2 separate regions of the Homo sapiens genome follow, and region 2 is linked to region 1. Evidence: fine-mapped expression QTL. A gene starts in region 1. The other region holds a variant in brackets. All regions are shown on one strand. Distances are from middle to middle.

Region 1 (10,020 bases):
ACAAATGTTCCCTCTCCCCTTGCTCCTCAGGTTCCTACTAAAAGGACTGCCAACCTTCTCACCACTACCCCCAGCCACTCCCCTGGGCCCCTCAGCAGCTCTGGCCCCCCAAGGAGGCCTCTCCCTGGGAATCTCTGTCAGGGCTCTGCTGCTGCCACCACCAGAAAAACCAGCTCTGGCTCCAGGCCTGGGTAAGGGTTGTCTGGTGTGGGTTTGGGGGGGTGAGGGGAATCCTGCCTGGGGCTAGGGGGAGGGGTCCAGGCTGTCTAGGGTCTCATGCTCCTTTGTTAACTCCTGCCTCCCCTTACCTGACAGCAACAATCTCCACCGAGAGCTGGAGTATGTGGGTGAGTCTGGGGTGAGAAAGGACCTAGGAGGGACGCACCGAAGCTCACCATCCAGGACAGGTGACACAAACAACCCAGCAAACCCCTTTCCATCCACTCTTTGCCCCATAACCTTGGCCTTGGAGTGCTAAGGAACTTTAAAAACCAGAAGATTCCCTCTCCGCCTTCATCCACCTCCCTCACTTACCCCCCATTGTACTAAGCCCCCCAGCTTAGTGAGAGCTTCCCAGCCTGGGCAAAACGCCCACCCACAGATTAGTGTCTGGGGAGGGGGGCCACACAATCACAAAGGGAGATGAGAACAATGGGGAGGACAGGCCTTGAGGCAGCCCCACTCTGGCCCAGACACAGCTCCCAGCACAGATAAGTCCCCTAAACCCCCCGGAGCCAGAGTCTGAGCCTGGCTGAGTCACCACAACAGCCACACTGTGGGTGGGAGAACCAGGATTCAGCTTCTCCCAAACTCCTGAGATCCTAACCCCTGCTCCACACTGCCCCTCCACCCACCATGGCCAGCTCTGCCCCATCCCAAATCACAGCCTCAACTCCAGCTCTCAGGACACACCAGATTTAGAGGGAAGGGGGTGGGGGTGGCCAGAAAACTATGAGAAAATCTCCTGAGGCCAGAGGCTGCCTGTTCCAGTGAAAGAGTGACCTCAGCCGCCTTCTCCACGGCCTTCCTTTAGGAGGCATGGCAGATGTCTCCCCAGTTCTGAACTTCGCCTCCTCTTTTTTTTTTTTTTTTTTTGACACAGAGTCTCACTCTGTCACCCAGGCTAGAGTGTAGTGGCGCGATCATGGCTCACTGCAACTTCAGTCTCCTTGGATTCAGGCAATCCTCCCAAGTAGCTGGGACCACAGGTATACTACCATGCCTGGCTAACTTTTGTATTTTTTGTAGAGACGGGATTTTGCCGTGTTGCCCAGGCTGGTCTCAAACTCCTGGCCTCAAGGGATTCACCTGCCTTGGCCTCCCAAAGTGCTGGGATTATAGGCGTGAGCCACCACGCCTGGCCCCCTCCTCATTTAGATTCTCTTCCCAAATTAAGACCCTAGGCTTCTCTACTCCCTTCCCTTCTGACTTCGTTCCCCACATCACCTCCATCCCTTCTCTCTGCCTAGACTTCGGTCAGAGCAAGGGCAAGTTTTTGGAGGCTAGAACATCCAATCATTCTCTCCTCACTGGGCCCCAAAGTAGCTAATCCCCATTCACTTTGCCTAGAGGACCCCCAGATCCTGAGGCTCTGGTCTGGCTGATGGAATCATGAACTCTAACCTCCTCATCTCTGTAGCTAGGCTCTCCTTGGCCCGGCCTCCTTAAACACTAGGGTGGGAACAAGGTCACTGGGGTCACAGGGCTTCCCTGGGATTCTCCCAGTTCTCACCACCTCCCTTGCTGGCTTCCCTGGGTTTGGGTAGGTCCTACAGGAAAGGGCCTGCCCCCCTCTGTAAACAGGAGTAGAAAAGTAAGGATGGGCCCCTCCCTTTCAAGGAAATTAACCTCAGACAGAAAGCTGATCCTAACCCCCAGAAGGCAGACCTCAGAATGCAGAGCACCACTTGCCCTTTGGTCCTGCAGGGCTCCTGAACCCGACAAAGAGCTAGGGACTAGGATCCTAATGGGGGGAGGGGTGTCTCGTGGATTTGGGTCCCTCAGCCCCAGGGCAAGAGATGGGGGAGGGAGAAGGGAGGAGACTTCACCCGGAAACTCAACCCATTAAGGAGAGACAAAGAGCTGTGGTGCTGAGGCGCCTCCCAAGCCTGGGCTCCTTTCCCTGTCAGGGGTGGGGCAGGGCCCTGGGGCTCAGAGCTCTAATGGCCCAGGATTTGGGTGGGGGGTGAATTTGCAGTAGGGCCAGGAAGGCCTGGGGAAAGGTACTCTGGTACCCTCTGAGAGATGCGACCAGAACGCTTTCCTCCTCCTATCTCCACAGCCAGACCCAGTGACCCTTCCAACACCCCAGCACCCCACTTCAGCCAGGCCTGGACCATCACAGAGTCATCGTATTTCAGAGCTGGAAGGTCAATAGAGATCATCTGGTCCTAGCTCTCGGTCTACTGAAGTCTGGTTTCATCGCTGCCCAAGGTTACCAAATAGATTAATAGCAGAAACGGGATCTGGACCAAGACTCCTGACTTCCCAGTCCAAGGATTTTTTCAGAGACATGAAACATTCCAGGTTCCTGGGAGCCATTAAGGAGAGTCTACACACAGAAGAGCCAGAATGGGGGTGGTAGTGGAGGTAGGACCATCTGATCCTCAGGCTAGGAGCCTCCAGCCCCCAGAGCAACCTCAGCTCTGTGCAGGTTGTAGCTGCTGCAGCAGCAGCAGAGTGGCCTCCTACCAGGTGCCAGCTTCCTGGGGCAATCTGGAGCCAGGCTTCCTCCCTTACTGCCAGGCATTGCATGAGGTCTAACTAGAAGGGGGTCTCCTGTCCCCTTCCCTGGGCTTCTCTTAGTAAGAACAGTTTTGCCATCATGGAAAAGAAAGGCAAGAACCATGTGATGCAGTCACCATTGCATCTCCAGCATCTAGTATCCAGGTTGTACCCAGTGTGCACTCAAATGTACTATTCTTCAATGAACTTAGAGTGAGAACACCAAGACACTAACCCTGGTTATGCTTCTAACACTGAGCAGAGGTAATCAGGGATTCCAGCCATAGTGACCGGGCCTGGGGGCTGGGAGGGAACATGAAAGGGAAGGGCTACACTGGCTCTTCTGGGGGTACTGCTGGAAGCTGGGGGTGGGAGAGAGAGATTGGCTCCTCAGTTCAGAGTCATAGGAAAGAGATGTTTGTGTGTGTGCGTGTGTGTCTACTCCTAACGTTGAGTAATCTTGCAGATCTCACTTGCCTATCTCTCTCAGTTTTTTCATCTGTAAAATGAGAGAGTTGGAGTGGTGATCTCTTTGATCTCTTCCAAGTCCTGAGATGGCATGACTCCACTCTTTAAGTGTGGGTAGATCCCACAGGAAAGTGACTGCTGGTTCCCCAACTCCAGCAACTAGGCTCCACCTTTTTGGCCTAAACAAGTGAGAAGGATTATCTGGAAGATGGGAATTAAAACACAGGTGGTAGGGGACTGTGAGGGGATGGCAGGGGTAGGAGCTCAGTATCCTACGACTGGAGGCTGGGCCCATGACCTATAATAAAATCAGAGTTGGAGCAGCCCATACCTCCACCAATCCACACATCTAGGCCTTATTTCCCTCCTCAAAGCTTTGGCTGGAGATGGAGGTAGGGGAATCACTGCCAGATCTTGCTGGGCAACAGAGGCTCCCTTGCTACTGCTCCTGGGCCTGAGAATCAAACTGTCCTGTCCAGATCAGGCCCTATCTTTTGAAGGAGAAATATTTCTGTTACTCATTACCCTAGGAACACCCTATGGAATCCCACTGAGGTCTCACTGTGCACACACACGCACACACACTCTCCTCTACTCTGAAGATTATACATTCCTATAATTCATATTTGCTCTATATGCATTAGACAGACAGGAGGTGAGAAGTAATACAAGGCATCTAGTTAAGAAAATGGGGGAACAGGAGATGAACAAATGGGGACCACACCCTATCTAGAAGGTTCCCTTCCTTAGACCCCCATCCATCTAAACCCCCTTATTACCACCCTGGCACCTAATATTGTGCCCAGGGAAAGGAAGGGGTCAGAGTGACGGGCATTCTCAGCTCTCCTATAGTCCCCAACAGGTGCCCCAGTCCTGGTGCTCTAGAACATCATGGAGAGAAAAGAAGGAAATAGAAATCCCCCATCCACTCTCTGGGCATCAGGCTTCCTGCACCCTGATGACTGCAGAAACCAGCTGAGCTCTGAGTCAGCCCCAGTTCCAGGCAGCCGTTCCAGAGCCCAGGGGGTAGGCCAAGGCACCTCTAGGAAACCCTGGGGTGAACAGGATCCTCACAAGTCCCACCTGCCTGCCCATCTACACTGGGTCACCACGTCTATTCCCCAAGACAGCTCAGGCCTAGGCAAGGCTTTGGCAGAGGTGTCAGGGATCCCAGACATAGTGACCTGGCCTGGGGGCTGGGAGGAAACAAGAAGGGGGAGGGCTATACTGGCTTTTCTGGGGGCACTGCTGGAAGCTGGGGGCAGGAGAGACTGGATCCTCAGTTCAGAGTCAAAGAAAGGAGGATATGTGTGTGCGTGCGTGTGTGTCTATGTGTTTGTGCATGTGTGTCAGTGCCAGGTTGGGCTCAGAAGCAAGTGTCCTGATGGTTCAGGCAAGTCCTACCTGTAAATGATGCCAGCAGTAGCAGCAGCAGCAGCCAGGCCTCAGGCCCCCACATCTCGGCTCCCAGGGACAGGGGCATGGTTGAAAGGCAGACTGCCCAGCGTTTCTGAAGTTCCACCGAGATCTCCCTGGGAGCCGGCTGCAGACTTGAATAAGGAACTGACCCAGAAGGCAGGAAGCTGCAGAGTTCTTGCCTCTCGCACTTGGGTCTCCACTAGGGGACCCAGCCCCAGCCCCGGCCCCGTTCTACACACCCAGCCGTAGCTACCCCCAAGAAGCCGTGATCGGGAGCTCCGAGCTCCCCCAGAGCTGCTTCCCACGCTGTGGCCAACAACGACGGCAGAAACCTGGGAACCTGCTCAGCAGGTCAGAACAGGTGCGTCTCTGGGGGCTGGGCCTGGCACGGAGACTCAGCAGCCACCGCCCCCATGGCCTGGGCTAGCTAATAGGCGCCAGGGAGGGAGGGAAGGAGGGAAGGACCTGGGTGGGGGCGGTGGGGTCCCATCCTCAGCTCCAGGCTTTACCTGCGAGTATGTGGAAGGGGCTATGAAGGGAGAGGCAAGGGTGGGGACTAAGGGAGGCCCAGGGCACCAGGCCAGGCCAGGATGAAAGGGGCAAGGCCCTTGTGGGTAGAAAGGAACCCAAGCGTCCCACACCCCAGCTAGCCTTGGTACCTCCTGGGGGCCTTGACAAGTTCCCGGATCTCCTGGAGGGTCTCAGCTTTGGAGCCACAGAATCGGAGAAGGCCAGAACTGAGGAGGAAGGAGTCTGTCAGTGCTGCGCTGTATACTTCATTCTTCAGAAGAGAAAACCAAGGCCCAGAGAAGGGGAGGGACTTGCCAGAGGACACACAACTTAGTCTCATGGTTTGCTCAGACACCTCTATCCCTGAAGTAGGGAAGTAGTTCAAAGACCCCTGAGAAAGAACTTACGTAACTCCTCTAACTCCACCTCCATATATAAGAGGCCAAGGAAGTGGCCAAGGAATTAGCCGTAGGGGTTCCTGGTTTCCCTATCAGGGCCCTCTCTCAGCTTCAACACCTTGTTACCTGGCCAGGAGTCCCAAAAGCGCAGCAGCACAACTTGAATGGAGAGAGGTTCCTCTCTACCCTCTCCATGGCCATTTTACCCAGTTTACTCCAAGGTCATTGGACAAGACCACATGTCTGGACTTTGCAAGGAGAATCTTAATTTCAAGTACTCTAGCCCTGTATTCCTATAAGTACATCCTTGTCAGACCATGTGTTTCCATTCTGAATGCATAAAAAGTGACCGCCAAATTACACAAAACCTTCCTGGCCTCCCTGGGATAGCCAGAGGAAGAGGGCATATTCTGAGCCCACTGAAAATTTAGTGAACGGGAGGGACAACATCACTTGCAGTCTAGGGCTAATACAAAAACCAGGTAAATACAGAGATAGACGTGGGAGAAGAAAAAAATATAGGTTAAAGTTTTGCCATAGGACCCTTCCATCTGGAGAAGGCAGAAAGGAGGAATAAAGAAGCCATAAGGAAGAGTTGTTCTGTGTAGATTTTCTACCACCACCATCCCCACCAACTCTACCTGTCAAACTCTTATTCATCTTTCAAAGCTGACCTCAAATGCCACATCTTCGTGAAGCCTTCTCTGCTCCTCCCACCCCAAATTAATCTTTCTTCTATTCTTCCTCAGCCTTTGCTAGTCCTTTTATTATAGCTTATGTGCTCATAATTTGTGCACATCTTATCTCCTTAACTAAATTGTAAGCTTCAAGTCAAAAAAACATCGATTGAGGCCTGCTGTGTGCCAGGAATTCAGTAAATGTATTAAATTGCGGGACAGGACAAGAGTTGTAGCCTGTGAACTCCTTGAAAGTTGGGCTTGTTTTATAATCTTGTCTCAGTCTTCCATGCTAGGACAGGCCACAGCATTTCATGGGAACTGACTACATTTTGGTGAAGCCATGAATTTCTGAATAAATGAGTTGTCCGGATGAAAAGGATGGTGAAGTCGGATCAGTAAAGCAGAGATCCCGACTGGCTGTGAGTTACTATCCTGAACTAGGGTTGTGACCTGGACTTTACTCCTGTCACTGGACTATGACCCCAACTCTGGCTCTAGATGCCAAATGACCACGGCAGTGACCTCTTCTTCAGGGGCTATTTCCTGCAGGTCAGAGGCCCTTAAAGGCCAGGCCGGTTGCCAGAATTCCCCAGTTTCTCTCCACCTCCAACCCCTTCTCTTTTTCAGGTCCCCACCTGTGCCAGGGGAACAGCCCCACCCAGATGCTGCTTTGAGATCCTCTGTGGCAGGGGTGGAGTAGGGCCAGCGGGAATGGGAGGGGGAGCATCCTGTGTTATAATTATAATTATCACACCTTGGATCCTATCGCATGCTTTCGGAGGAGCTGCTTTCCTTCCCACGGATTCACCCCTCCAGGTACAGGAAGCCACAGGAGAAACTGAGGCACAGGAGTGGAAAAGCAGTTAGTTCACAAGATGGATATCCAATCTCCTTCAGCCTATCCATTCACAGTATACCCCGTGAAAGTGCTACCAGTCAGGATGTCTCTGAACCCCTGGTTGGGCCCCTTAATCACTCACCCTGAACTCTAGCCATACGGAGCATGGAAAGGAGGCAGAACTGTCCAGAGGTGGAGTTAGGGTATGGCTATACTCATTTTTTCATGGGTATGATGCAGCCTTGAAGTAGGCTAAGGGCACCACAGGGCCTGAGAGGGAGCACTAGAGTCCAGCAGCCCACTCCAGGCCTTTGACAGAGTTAGGGATCTCTCTCCTCATTTCACAAATACCTATCTCAAGTCCCTCTGTCCCCTCCTTCCCCTCAGCCCTGTATGTCTCACAAGAGCCATGCTTTTGGAGAATATGCCCTCAAACTTAGGCCTTTCCTACCCTCTCCTAGGATGAAGGCTGGGGAAGGCATATTCTAGGATTGAGACTGGAAGGAAATATTGGATGAGGAAGATTTTCAAGACCAATGCCTGGTATCCTGGTTCGGTTCTCCCTTCCATATTGAATTCCCATTCCCCACATGCCTCACTCCTACCCTCCTCCTACCCACATTGTGGTCGCTAAGAATGAGAACAATTCAAGCCATGATAGTGTCTTTATCATGTGTGTTTGTCTGAGTGACATTGCTGCGTGCGCGCCTGCACCCATGCATTCCTTCAACAGACATTAAATGAGTGCCACTATGTGTCAGGCTCAAGGGAGGAGACCGAGACACATAACACATAGTCCCTGCCCTCAAGGAGCCTTCAATCAGGAGAGGCAGACACAGAAACAACTGTAACATGCTATATCCCACCATCATGTGTTCCCTACGTATCTCTGTACACATACATGCTATGCACATATGTGGGACTGTCTCTGTATGCACAGCAGCGGATGTTCTTCATGATCTGCATGCATCCAAGCATCCGCTTATACCTGTCTCTGTCCCCATGACAGGCTGCACGCCTCAGCCAAACCGGTTGGAGTGGGTTGTGCTGAAATTTTTGTTTGTGTCAATGGGACTTGAGGTGAGTCAGAGAGGGACAAGGATGGGTGGGGTGGTGTGGGGGAGAAGAAGAGTGAGAGTGAGGGTCAGATTGAGTGGGGGAGGGAAGGAGTGGGCCCAGGTTGGAAGGGGTGGGAGTGAGAGTGGGGTGCAGGAGGATGAGTTGGGGGTAGGAGTAGATGAGAGAGCTCCTTGGTGAGTAATATCCTGTCTGCCTGCAGTGAAGTCCCAGGTCAGAGAAGAGTCAGAGGCTGGGGGAGAGTCCCTTGTGCTTAGGGAGAGAGGAGGGTGAAAAATAAATCAGAGTGGAACTAGTTGGAAGCATGAGAGTGGATAAAATATTTGTGATCCATTTCTGTACAGCTTTGTCTCTGTGATAAGCTATTCCTGATCTGCTCATTGCAAACTTTCCGCAGTTTGTACAGAAAGGTGTTGGGGAGCTGATGACGTGGTGAAAGATTACCAATATGGGCCTTGATCTCACCCCCCAGGACCAAGGCTTCAAAGTCACTCCTCCTGCTCCTCCCTAGGATCACCCCTGCTCCATCCCGGGAGGTATGGGCATACCCCCATACAGAACACAGGGGCTCCAGCAGCTTTTCTTCCCCTAGAAAACACCTTTACTCCCCTCCTGATGGAACTTCACTATGCTCAATATTAGGATGGTGGCCTCCTGTTTTCTAGAAAATTACATCAAAACATTGCCATGTGCTATGTTGTTCTTTGCCTATCCTGCAGGCCCACCGATTCCCCAATACCCAGCCCCCAGCCCCATCCTTTAATGATAACCACATTTCTTGGTTGCCTAACAACCCTTGGAGATCAGGGGGCTGAATTTGCTTGTTCCTCGAGGGCCCTAAAGCTGGAGTGTGCCATCCAGGGGAGGAGGCAGCTAAATGCAAGACATGTTCAGGTCCCGTTTCTCGGTAGGTCCAGTTGTGTGCAGAGCCCCATCCTCCTTGCTCTCAACCCATGAACTTCGCAAGTTTCCATGAACACACTACCATGAAATCCAGGACCACAGTATGGGTTAAGGGACAAATATCTTTATTTTGACACTAAGACCCCACTGTGGGGAAATTCTACTCCCTGAAAAGGCCCTATGTATTGAAGCTCACTCAGGTCTTCATCAAAAATTGAGACCTTATGACTGTGCCCGGGGACCCCAAACTGGTGCTATAGTTCTAGAAAGCAGCCAAAGGGAAGAAGTCTGGCCACTTCTGGAAAGTTCTAAAGCTCCTTGCAGGAAAGTCAGATGGCTGGCTCTGGTCAGCAGGAAAAAAAGGGCAGTAACCCAGAGAGAAAAACACAAAAGTCGAAACAGTGAGAGACAGATCTCAAGGCACAGTGAGAAAAATGGAAACTTAAAGACAGAAAAATATACAAATGCTCCTTGACTTTTATGATGGGGTTATGTCCTGATAAGCCCATTGCAAACTGAACATATAAGTTGAAAATGCATTTAATATACCAGTCGCTAGCCCTAGAAAATATCAAAATTTAAAATTCAAGTATGGGTCCTACCGAACACGCTATCATTTTTGCATCACTGTAGTTTAAAAATTATAAGTTGGGTTGGGCATGGTGGCTCACACCTGTAATCCCAGCACTTTGGGAGGCTGAGGTGGGCGGATCATGAGGTCAAGAGATCGAGACCATCCTGGCCAACATGGTGAAACCCCGTCTCTACTAAAAACTCAAAAAATTAGCTGGGCTTGGTGGTGCGTGCCTATAGTCCCAGCTACTCAGGAGGCTGAGGCAGGAGAATCACTTGAACCCAGGAGGCGGAGGTTGCGGTGAGCCAAGATTGTGCCACTGCACTCCAGCCTGGTGACAGAGCAGGACTCCGTCTCAAAAAAAAAAAAAGAAAAAGAAAAAGAAAAATTGTAGGTTGAACCATTGTAAGTCAGGGATTGTATTGGAGA
Region 2 (10,020 bases), 400 kb before region 1:
GGTAAGTAAAGCAGAATGTCTGGGTCTATGTTGATACTGAGAGAGTGGGACAGTAGTGGGAACAACAGTCAAAATAGTTTTCCCTTCCCATACTCGCAGTCCAGACATGGCAATAGCCAATTTCCAAAGTTCTGGGTGTTCTGGGCTCAGAATGGGGAGTATCATACGAGGCTTGGGGGGCGGGTAATGCCTTTATCTTCCCATTTTAAGGGAAAGAATGAGCTGATCCTCCTATGCAAAGTAGAATGATGATTCTCGTTCTCCTGATAAGAAATAAAATAATTAGCCTCCAGGAATTCCCTTCCACTAGAGGAGCAATTATTTTTTAAATAGCCCTTTGGTGCCCAGTCTATTACTAAACCATATGAGTCATTTTTTAATATTACTGCATGTGAGTTAACACAATCATCCTAAATTAAAGTTTTAGATGGGCCCTCAAAATTTTTAGGGCATGGTTTTCCTGCAGGTTTATATTGAAAGTATGGGGTATCTCCCATTACTTCTCCTTTCATTTGTTTTAAAGGAGAAAGGGAGAGGCCAGAGACTAAATGTCCTATTTTATCTGTAGCTGATGTTTTCGGAAGATAAGCAGCCTAGAATTGAGTTTCTAGGTGGATGCAACCAGGTGCATGTCCGAGGCACAGAGGGGGGTATTTATAATCTATGGTAACATTAAATGCAGTGCCTTCTTCTCCTGGTTGAGCAGGGCAACGGTCATCTGTGGCTCTAGGCATCTACACACTATCATTAGTGTAGATTTCTGCAGGAGCATCTATCTAGGTGAGAGGTCGAATAAGTGGAGGAAAAGGCACATAAGCCTAATAAGAATAATTATGTGTAGCAGGTAAATCAGTGTGAGAGGAAACTGGTGAGACAGAAAGTATAAGGAGGAGAATCATTAAATAAAACCTAGTGTAAGTGAGATTGAGTGCTGAAGGAGGAAGAGAAGAACAGAGGGATGTTATTTTCAGGCTAATAGAAATGGTGAGATTTTTAGGTTTGTAAGGAGAAAAAGAAAAGTAATCAGGAGAAGTGGGATTAGTTAGATGGGTCTCCACTGCCATCAGGGAGGATTGATTTACACCTATTGTGATTTGGTGTGCCTGTTTCTGAGGAGTCAGCAGAGATCTCACCACGTCTGAAGGCAATCTCTGACACAGATGTTTTTTGTCTGTGGTTTTAGTTGTCAGTATTCACCTGAAGCTTGAGTCTTCTGGTGGGTACCTAGACATGGGATTGATGATCTCCTGGTGAAACACAAGCATATCCTCTTCCCTACGTTATAATTGTGCCAGGTTCCTAGGTATTGGTTTGAGAGTTTTTCCATAACACTGACTTGCCTTCGTTTATGGAAAATTTTTTGCCTGTATAATGGCGTTTGGCTGCAGTTACAGTATTATCTTTAGGAACATTTAAAAAATTTAAAGTAAATAATGCCAAATGTAATTGGGAGTGTGGAGTAGTTAAATCATGTTTTGGTTGTTCAGACTGTTTGGACAATTGGGTTTTTAAAGTGCGATTGGCCTGTTCCACCACAGCCTGTCCTTGAGGATTGTAAGGGATTCTAGTAATATGGGAAATTCCTTACTGTTGTATAAATGAATCAAAAGCCTTACTAACATATCCAGGGGCATTGTCTGTCTTTATTTGATATGGAAGCCCCATAACTGCAAAGCAAGAATACAGATGTTTTTAAAAATGGGCCGTGCCTTCCCCTGTTTGTCAAGTAGCCCAGATAAAACCTGAGAAGGTATCTACTGAGACATGCACATATGACAGTCTGCCAAAGGAGCTAACATGAGTCACATCCATTTGCCATCAAGCATTAGGAGTTAGGCCTCTAGGCTTAACACCAGGTTCCTGATTTGGAAGTACGAAGACCTGGCACTGAGGGCAGCTGTGAACAATAAACTTAGCCTGTTTCTAGGTAAGAGCAAATTTATCTTTTAAGCCAGTGGCATTGACATGAGTGAGATTATGGAACTCCTGAGCTTCTTGGGTCATTAAAGACACCAAACAGTCAACTTCATGGTTACCAGCAGACATGGGTCCTGGTAAAGTGGTATGAGACCTAATATGTGTAATATAGGAAGGGTGTCTACACTGGTGAACCACCTGTTGTAACCTTGAAAATAAAGAAGCCAATTCAGAATTATCAATATGTTTGATAGTAGCAGTTTCTATATTTTTAGTGGCATGTACAACATAAGCGGAATCTGAGACTGTGGGGAAAAGCAAGAGAGGTCAGATTGTTACTGTGTCTGTATAGAAAGAAGTAGACATAGGAGACTCCATTTTGTTCTGTACTAAGAAAAATTATTCTGCCTTGAGATGCTGTTAATCTATGACCTTACCCCCAACCCCGTGCTCTCTGAAACATGTGCTGTGTCAAACTCAGGGTTAAATGGATTAAGGGCGGTGCAAGATGTGCTTTGTTAAACAGATGCTTGAAGGCAGCATGCTCATTAAGAGTCATCACCACTCCCTAATCTCAAGTACCCAGGGACACAAAAACTGCGGAAGCCTGCAGGGGCCTCTGCCTAGGAAAGCCAGGTATTGTCCAAGGTTTCTCCCCATGTGATAGTCTGAAATATGGCCTCGTGGGAAGGGAAAGACCTGACCGTCCCCCAGCCCGACACCCGTAAAGGGTCTGTGCTGAGGAGGATTAGTATAAGAGGAAAGCATGTCTCTTGCAGTTGAGACAAGAGGAAGGCATCTGTTTCCCGCCCATCCCTGGGCAATGGAATGTCTCGGTATAAAACCCGATTGTACGTTCCACCTACTGAGATAGGGAGAAACCACCTTAGGGCTGGAGGTGGGACATGCAGGCAGCAATACTGCTTTGTAAAGCATTGAGATGTTTATGTGTATGCATATCTAAAAGCACAGCATTTAATCCTTTACCTTGTCTATGATGCAAAGACCTTTGTTCACGTGTTTGTCTGCTCACCCTCTCCCCACTATTGTCTTGTGACCCTGACACATCTCCCTCTCGGAGAAACACCCACGAATGATCAATAAATACTAAGGGGACTCAGAGGCTGGTGGGATCCTCCATATGCTGAACGTTGGTTCCCCGGGCCCCCTTATTTCTTTCTCTATACTTTGTCTCTGTGTCTTTTTCTTTTCCAAGTCTCTCATTGCACCTTACGAGAAACACCCACAGGTGTGGAGGGGCAACCCACCCCTTCATCTGGTGCCCAACGTGGAGGCTTTTCTCTGGGGTGAAGGTACACTCGAGCGTGGTCATTGAGGACAAGTCGACAAGAGATCCCGAGTACATCTACAGTCAGCCTTACGGTAAGCTTGTGCACTCGGAAGAAGCTAGGGTGACAATGGGGCAAACTAAAACTAAAAGTAAATATGCCTCTTATCTTAGCTTCATTAAAATTCTTTTAAAAAGAGGGGGAGTTAGAGTATCCACCAAAAATCTAATCAAGCTATTTCAAACAACAGAACAATTTTGCCCATGGTTTCCAGAACAAGGAAATTTAGATCTAGAAGATTGGAAAAGAATTGGTAAGGAACTAAAACAAGCAGGTAGGAAGGGTAATATCATTCCACTTACAGTATGGAATGATTGGCCCATTATTAAAGCAGCTTTAGAACCATTTCAAACAGAAGATAGCGTTTCAGTTTCTGATGCCCCTGGAAGCTGTATAATAGATTGTAATGAAAAGACAAGGAAAAAATCCCAGAAGGAAACGGAAACTTTACATTGCGAATATGTAGCAGAGCCGTTAATGGCTCAGTCAACGCAAAATGTTGACTATAATCAATTACAGGAGGTGATATATCCTGAAACATTAAAATTAGAAGGAAAAGGTCCAGAATTAGTGGGGCCATTAGAGTCTAAACCACGAGGGCCAAGTCCTCTTTCAGCAGGTCAGGTGACCGTAACATTACAACCTCAAGCGCAGGTTAGAGAAAATAAGACCCAACTGCCAGTAGCTTATCAATACTGGCCACCGGCCGAACTTCAGTATCGGCCACCCCCAGAAAGTCAGTATGGATATCTAGGAATGCCCCCAGCACCACAGGGCAGGGAGCCATACCCTCAGCCGCCCACTAGGAGACAATCCTATGGCACCACCTAGTAGACAGGGTAGTGAATTACATGAAATTATTGAGAAGTCAAGAAAGGAAGGAGATACTGAGGCGTGGCAATTCCCAGTAACGTTAGAACCGATGCCACCTGGAGAAGGAGCCCAAGAGGGAGAGCCTCTCACAGTTGAGGCCAGATACAAGTCTTTTTAGATAAAAATGCTAAAAGATATGAAAGAGGGAGTAAAACAGTATGGACCCAACTCCCCTTATATGAGGACATTATTAGATTCCATTGCTCATGGACATAGACTCATTCCTTATGATTGGGAGATTCTGGCAAAATCATCTCTCTCACCCTCTCAATTTTTACAATTTAAGACTTGGTGAATTGATGGGGCACAAGAACAGGTCCGAAGAAATAGGGCTGCCAATCCTCCAGTTAACATAGATGCAGATCAACTATTAGGAACAGGTCAAAATTGGAGCACTATTAGTCAACAAGCATTAATGCAAAATGA[G/A]GCCATTGAGCAAGTTAGAGCTATCTGCCTTAGAGCCTGGGAAAAAATCCAAGACCCAGGAAGCGCCTGCTCCACATTTAATACAGTAAGACAAGGTTCAAAAGAGCCCTACCCTGATTTTGTGGCAAGGCTCCAAGATGTTGCTCAAAAGTCAATTGCCAGTGAAAAAGCCCGTAAGGTCATAGTGGAGTTGATGGCATACGAAAACGCCAATCCTGAGTGTCAATCAGCCATTAAGCCATTAAAAGGAAAGGTTCCCGCAGGATCAGATGTAATCTCAGAGTATGTAAAAGCCCGTGATGGAATTGGAGGAGCTACGCATAAAGCTATGCTTATGGCCCAAGCAATAACAGGAGTTGTTTTAGGAGGACAAGTTAGAACATTTGGAGGAAAATGTTATAATTGTGGTCAAATTGGTCATTTAAAAAAGAATTGCCCAGTCTTAAATAAACAGAATATAACTATTCAAGCTACTACAACAACAGGTAGAGAGCCACCTGACTTATGTCCAAGATGTAAAAAAGGAAAACATTGGGCTAGTCAATGTCATTCTAAATTTGATAAAAATGGGCAATCATTGTCGGGAAACTACCAAAAGGGCTAGTCAATGTCGTTCCAAATTTGATAAAAATGGGCAACCATTGTCGGGAAACTAGCAAAGGGGCCAGCCTCAGGCCCTGCAACAAACTGGGGCATTCCCAATTCAGCCCTTTGTTCCTCAGGGTTTTCAGGGACAACAACCCCCACTGTCCCAAGTACCTCAGGGAATAAGCCAGTTACCACAGTACAACAATTGTCCCCCGCCACAAGTGGCAGTGCAGCAGTAGATTTATGTACTATACAAGCAGTCTCTCTGCTTCCAGGGGAGCCCCCACAAAAAATCCCCACAGGAGTATATGGCCCGCTGCCTGAGGAGACTGTAGGACTAATCTTGGGAAGATCACGTCTAAATCTAAAAGGAGTTCAAATTCATACTGGTGTGGTTGATTCAGACTATAAAGGTGAAATTCAATTGGTTATTAGCTCTTCAATTCCTTGGAGTGCCAGTCCAGGAGACAGGATTGCTCGATTATTACTCCTGCCATATATTAAGGTTGGAAATAGTGAAATAAAAAGAACAGGAGGGTTTGGAAGCACTGATCCGACAGGAAAGGCTGCATATTGGGCAAGTCAGGTCTCAGAGAACAGACCTGTGTGTAAGGCCGTTATTCAAGGAAAACAGCTTGAAGGATTGGTAGACACTGGAGCAGATGTCTCTATCATTGCTTTAAATCAGTGGCCAAAAAATTGGCCTAAACAAAAGACTGTTACAGGACTTGTCGGCATAGTCACAGCCTCAGAAGTGTATCAGAGTACTGAGATTTTACATTGCTTAGGGCCACATAATCAAGAAAGTACTGTTCAGCCAATGATCACTTCAATTCCTCTTAATCTGTGGGGTCGAGATTTGTTACAACAATGGGGTGCGGAAATCACCATGACCGCTACATTATATAGCCCCATGAGTCAAAAAATCATGACCAAGATGGGATATATACCAGGAAAGGGACTAGGAAAAAATGAAGATGGCATTAAAGTTCCAATTGAGGCTAAAATAAATCACGGAAGAGAAGGAACAGGGTATCCTTTTTAGGGGTGACCACTGTAGAGCCTCCTAAACCCATACCGTTAACTTGGAAAACAGAAAAACTGGTGTGGGTAAATCAGTGGCCGCTACCAAAACAAAAACTGGAGGCTTTACATTTATTAGCAAATGAACAGTTAGAAAAGGGACATATTGAGCCTTCATTCTCGCCTTGGAATTCTCCTGTGTTTGTAATTCAGAAGAAATCCAGCAAATGGCGTATGTTAACTGACTTAAGGGCTGTAAATGCCGTAATTCAACCCATGGGGCCTCTCCAACCTGGGTTGCCCTCTCCAGCCATGATCCCAAAAGATTGGCCTTTAATTATAATTGATCTAAAGGACTGCTTTTTTACCATCCCTCTGGCAGAGCAGGATTGTGAAAAATTTGCCTTTACTATACCAGCCATAAATAATAAAGAACCAGCCACCAGGTTTCAGTGGAAAGTGTTACCTCAGGGAATGCTTAATAGTCCAACTATTTGTCAGACTTTTGTAGGTCGAGCTCTTCAACCAGTTAGAGACAAGTTTTCAGACTGTTATATTATTCATTATTTTGATGATATTTTATGTGCTGCAGAAACGAAAGATAAATTAATTGACTGTTATACATTTCTGCAAGCAGAGGTTGCCAATGCAGGACTGGCAATAGCATCTGATAAGATCCAAACCTCTACTCCTTTTCATTATTTAGGGATGCAGATAGAAAATAGAAAAATTAAGCCACAAAAAATAGAAATAAGAAAAGACACATTAAAAACACTAAATGATTTTCAAAAATTGCTGGGAGATATTAATTGGATTCGGCCAACTCTAGGCATTCCTACTTATGCCATGTCAAATTTGTTCTCTATCTTAAGAGGAGACTCAGACTTAAATAGTAAAAGAATGTTAACCCCAGAGGCAACAAAAGAAATTAAATTAGTGGAAGAAAAAATTCAGTCAGCGCAAATAAATAGAATAGATCCCTTAGCCCCACTCCAACTTTTGATTTTTGCCACTGCACATTCTCCAACAGGCATCATTATTCAAAATACTGATCTTGTGGAGTGGTCATTCCTTCCTCACAGTACAGTTAAGACTTTTACATTGTACTTGGATCAAATAGCTACTTTAATTGGTCCGACAAGATTACGAATAATAAAATTATGTGGAAATGACCCAGACAAAATAGTTGTCCCTTTAACCAAGGAACAAGTTAGACAAGCCTTTATCAATTCTGGTGCATGGCAGATTGGTCTTGCTAATTTTGTGGGAATTATTGATAATCATTACCCAAAAACAAAAATCTTCCAGTTCTTAAAATTGACTACTTGGATTCTACCTAAAATTACCAGATGTGAACCTTTAGAAAATGCTCTAACAGTATTTACTGATGGTTCCAGCAATGGAAAAGTGGCTTACACAGGGCCAAAAGAACGAGTAATCAAAACTCCATATCAATCGGCTCAAAGAGCAGAGTTGGTTGCAGTCATTACAGTGTTACAAGATTTTGATCAACCTATCAATATTATATCAGATTCTGCATATGTAGTACAGGCTACAAGGGATGTTGAGACAGCTCTAATTAAATATAGCATGGACGATCAGTTAAACCAGCTATTCAATTTATTACAACAAACTGTAAGAAAAAGAAACTTCCCATTTTATATTACTCATATTCGAGCACACACTAATTTACCAGGGCCTTTGACTAAAGCAAATGAACAAGCTGACTTACTGGTATCATCTGCATTCATAAAAGCACAAGAACTTCATGCTTTGACTCATGTAAATGCAGCAGGATTAAAAAACAAATTTGATGTCACATAGAAACAGGCAAAAGATATTGTACAACATTGCACCCAGTGTCAAGTCTTAGACCTGCCCACTCAAGAGGCAGGAGTTAACCCAGAGGTCTGTGTCCTAATGCATTATGGCAAATGGATGTCACGCATGTACCTTCATTTGGAAGATTATCATATGTCATGTAACAGTTGATACTTATTCACATTTCATGTGGGCAACTTGCCAAACAGGAGAAAGTACTTCCCATGTTAAAAAACATTTATTGTCTTGTTTTGCTGTAATGGGAGTTCCAGAAAAAATCAAAACTGACAATGGACCAGGATATTGTAGTAAAGCTTTCCAAAAATTCTTAAGTCAGTGGAAAATTTCACATACAACAGGAATTCCTTATAATTCCCAAGGACAGGCCATAGTTGAAAGAACTAATAGAACACTCAAAACTCAATTAGTTAAACAAAAAGAAGGGGGAGACAGTAAGGAGTGTACCACTCCTCAGATGCAACTTAATCTAGCACTCTATACTTTAAATTTTTTAAACATTTATAGAAATCAGACTACTACTTCTGCAGAACATCTTACTGGTAAAAAGAACAGCCCACATGAAGGAAAACTAATTTAGTGGAAAGATAATTAAAATAAGACATGGGAAATAGGGAAGCTGATAACGTGGGGGAGAGGTTTTGCTTGTGTTTCACCAGGAGAAAATCAGCTTCCTGTTTGGATACCCACTAGACATTTGAAGTTCTACAATGAACCCATCAGAGATGCAAAGAAAAGCGCCTCCACGGAGATGGTAACACCAGTCACATGGATGGATAATCCTATAGAAGTATATGTTAATGATAGTGTATGGGTACCTGGCCCCACAGATGATCGCTGCCCTGCCAAACCTGAGGAAGAAGGGATGATGATAAATATTTCCATTGGGTATCATTATCCTCCTATTTGCCTAGGGAGAGCACCAGGATGTTTAATGCCTGCAGTCCAAAATTGGTTGGTAGAAGTACCTACTGTCAGTCCTAACAGTAGATTCACTTATCACATGGTAAGCGGGATGTCACTCAGGCCACGGGTAAATTATTTACAAGACTTTTCTTATCAAAGATCATTAAAATTTAGACCTAAAGGGAAAACTTGCCCCAAGGAAATTCCTAAAGGATCAAAGAATACAGAAGTTTTAGTTTGGGAAGAATGTGTGGCCAATAGTGTGGTGATATTACAAAACAATGAATTCGAAACTATTATAGATTGGGCACCTCGAGGTCAATTCTACCACAATTGCTCAGGACAAACTCAGTCGTGTCCAAGTGCACAAGTGAGTCCAGCTGTTGATAGCGACTTAACAGAAAGTCTAGACAAACATAAGCATAAAAAATTACAGTCTTTCTACCTTTGGGAATGGGAAGAAAAAGGAATCTCTACCCCAAGACCAAAAATAATAAGTCCTGTTTCTGGTCCTGAACATCCAGAATTGTGGAGGCTTACTGTGGCCTCACACCACATTAGAATTTGGTCTGGAAATCAAACTTTAGAAACAAGATATCGTAAGCCATTTTATACTATCGACCTAAATTCCATTCTAACGGTTCCTTTACAAAGTTGCATAAAGCCCCCTTATATGCTAGTTGTAGGAAATATAGTTATTAAACCAGCCTCCCAAACTATAACCTGTGAAAATTGTAGATTGTTTACTTGCATTGATTCAACTTTTAATTGGCAGCACCGTATTCTGCTGGTGAGAGCAAGAGAAGGCATGTGGATCCCTGTGTCCACGGACCGACCGTGGGAGGCCTCGCCATCCATCCATATTTTGACTGAAATATTAAAAGGCATTTTAAATAGATCCAAAAGATTCATTTTTACTTTAATTGCAGTGATTATGGGATTAATTGCAGTCACAGCTACGGCTGCTGTGGCAGGAGTTGCATTGCACTCTTCTGTTCAGTCAGTAAACTTTGTTAATTATTGGCAAAAGAATTCTACAAGATTGTGGAATTCACAATCTAGTATTGATCAAAAATTGGCAAGTCAAATTAATGATCTT

Which allele goes with the higher level. Alleles are on the strand shown, and positions count from the first base shown. SD is a standard deviation of normalised expression in the study named.
With allele G in place of A in region 2, the expression in skin of the gene that starts at base 4,937 in region 1 is lower (moderate effect, 0.41 SD a copy in TwinsUK).

Evidence for each region. PIP is the estimated chance that this variant, and not a neighbour inherited with it, causes the effect.
Region 2: its variant is the best candidate, but not a certain one, in a credible set for the expression of NECTIN4 in skin (TwinsUK, PIP 0.75).

The regions. Positions count from the first base shown.
Region 1 is chr1:161,084,622-161,094,641 of GRCh38, forward strand. NECTIN4 (nectin cell adhesion molecule 4) reads right to left here and starts at 4,937. Exons shown (of 9, transcript NM_030916.3): 1 at 4,597-4,937. The coding sequence starts at 4,675. NECTIN4-AS1 (NECTIN4 antisense RNA 1) reads left to right here. Exons shown (of 4, transcript NR_183641.1): 2 at 31-191; 3 at 316-407; 4 at 2,282-6,111. RefSeq lists an enhancer at 8,155-8,254.
Region 2 is chr1:160,688,562-160,698,581 of GRCh38, forward strand. The region is part of intron 1 of CD48 (CD48 molecule); the gene reads right to left. It overlaps LOC124904439 (endogenous retrovirus group K member 18 Env polyprotein), which reads left to right. Exons shown (of 1, transcript XM_047438433.1): 1 at 1-10,020. The coding sequence starts at 8,767. Among named protein-coding and RNA genes, the nearest start is that of CD48, 18 kb to the right of the region's middle. The variant G/A (reference allele first, on the strand shown) is at 4,566.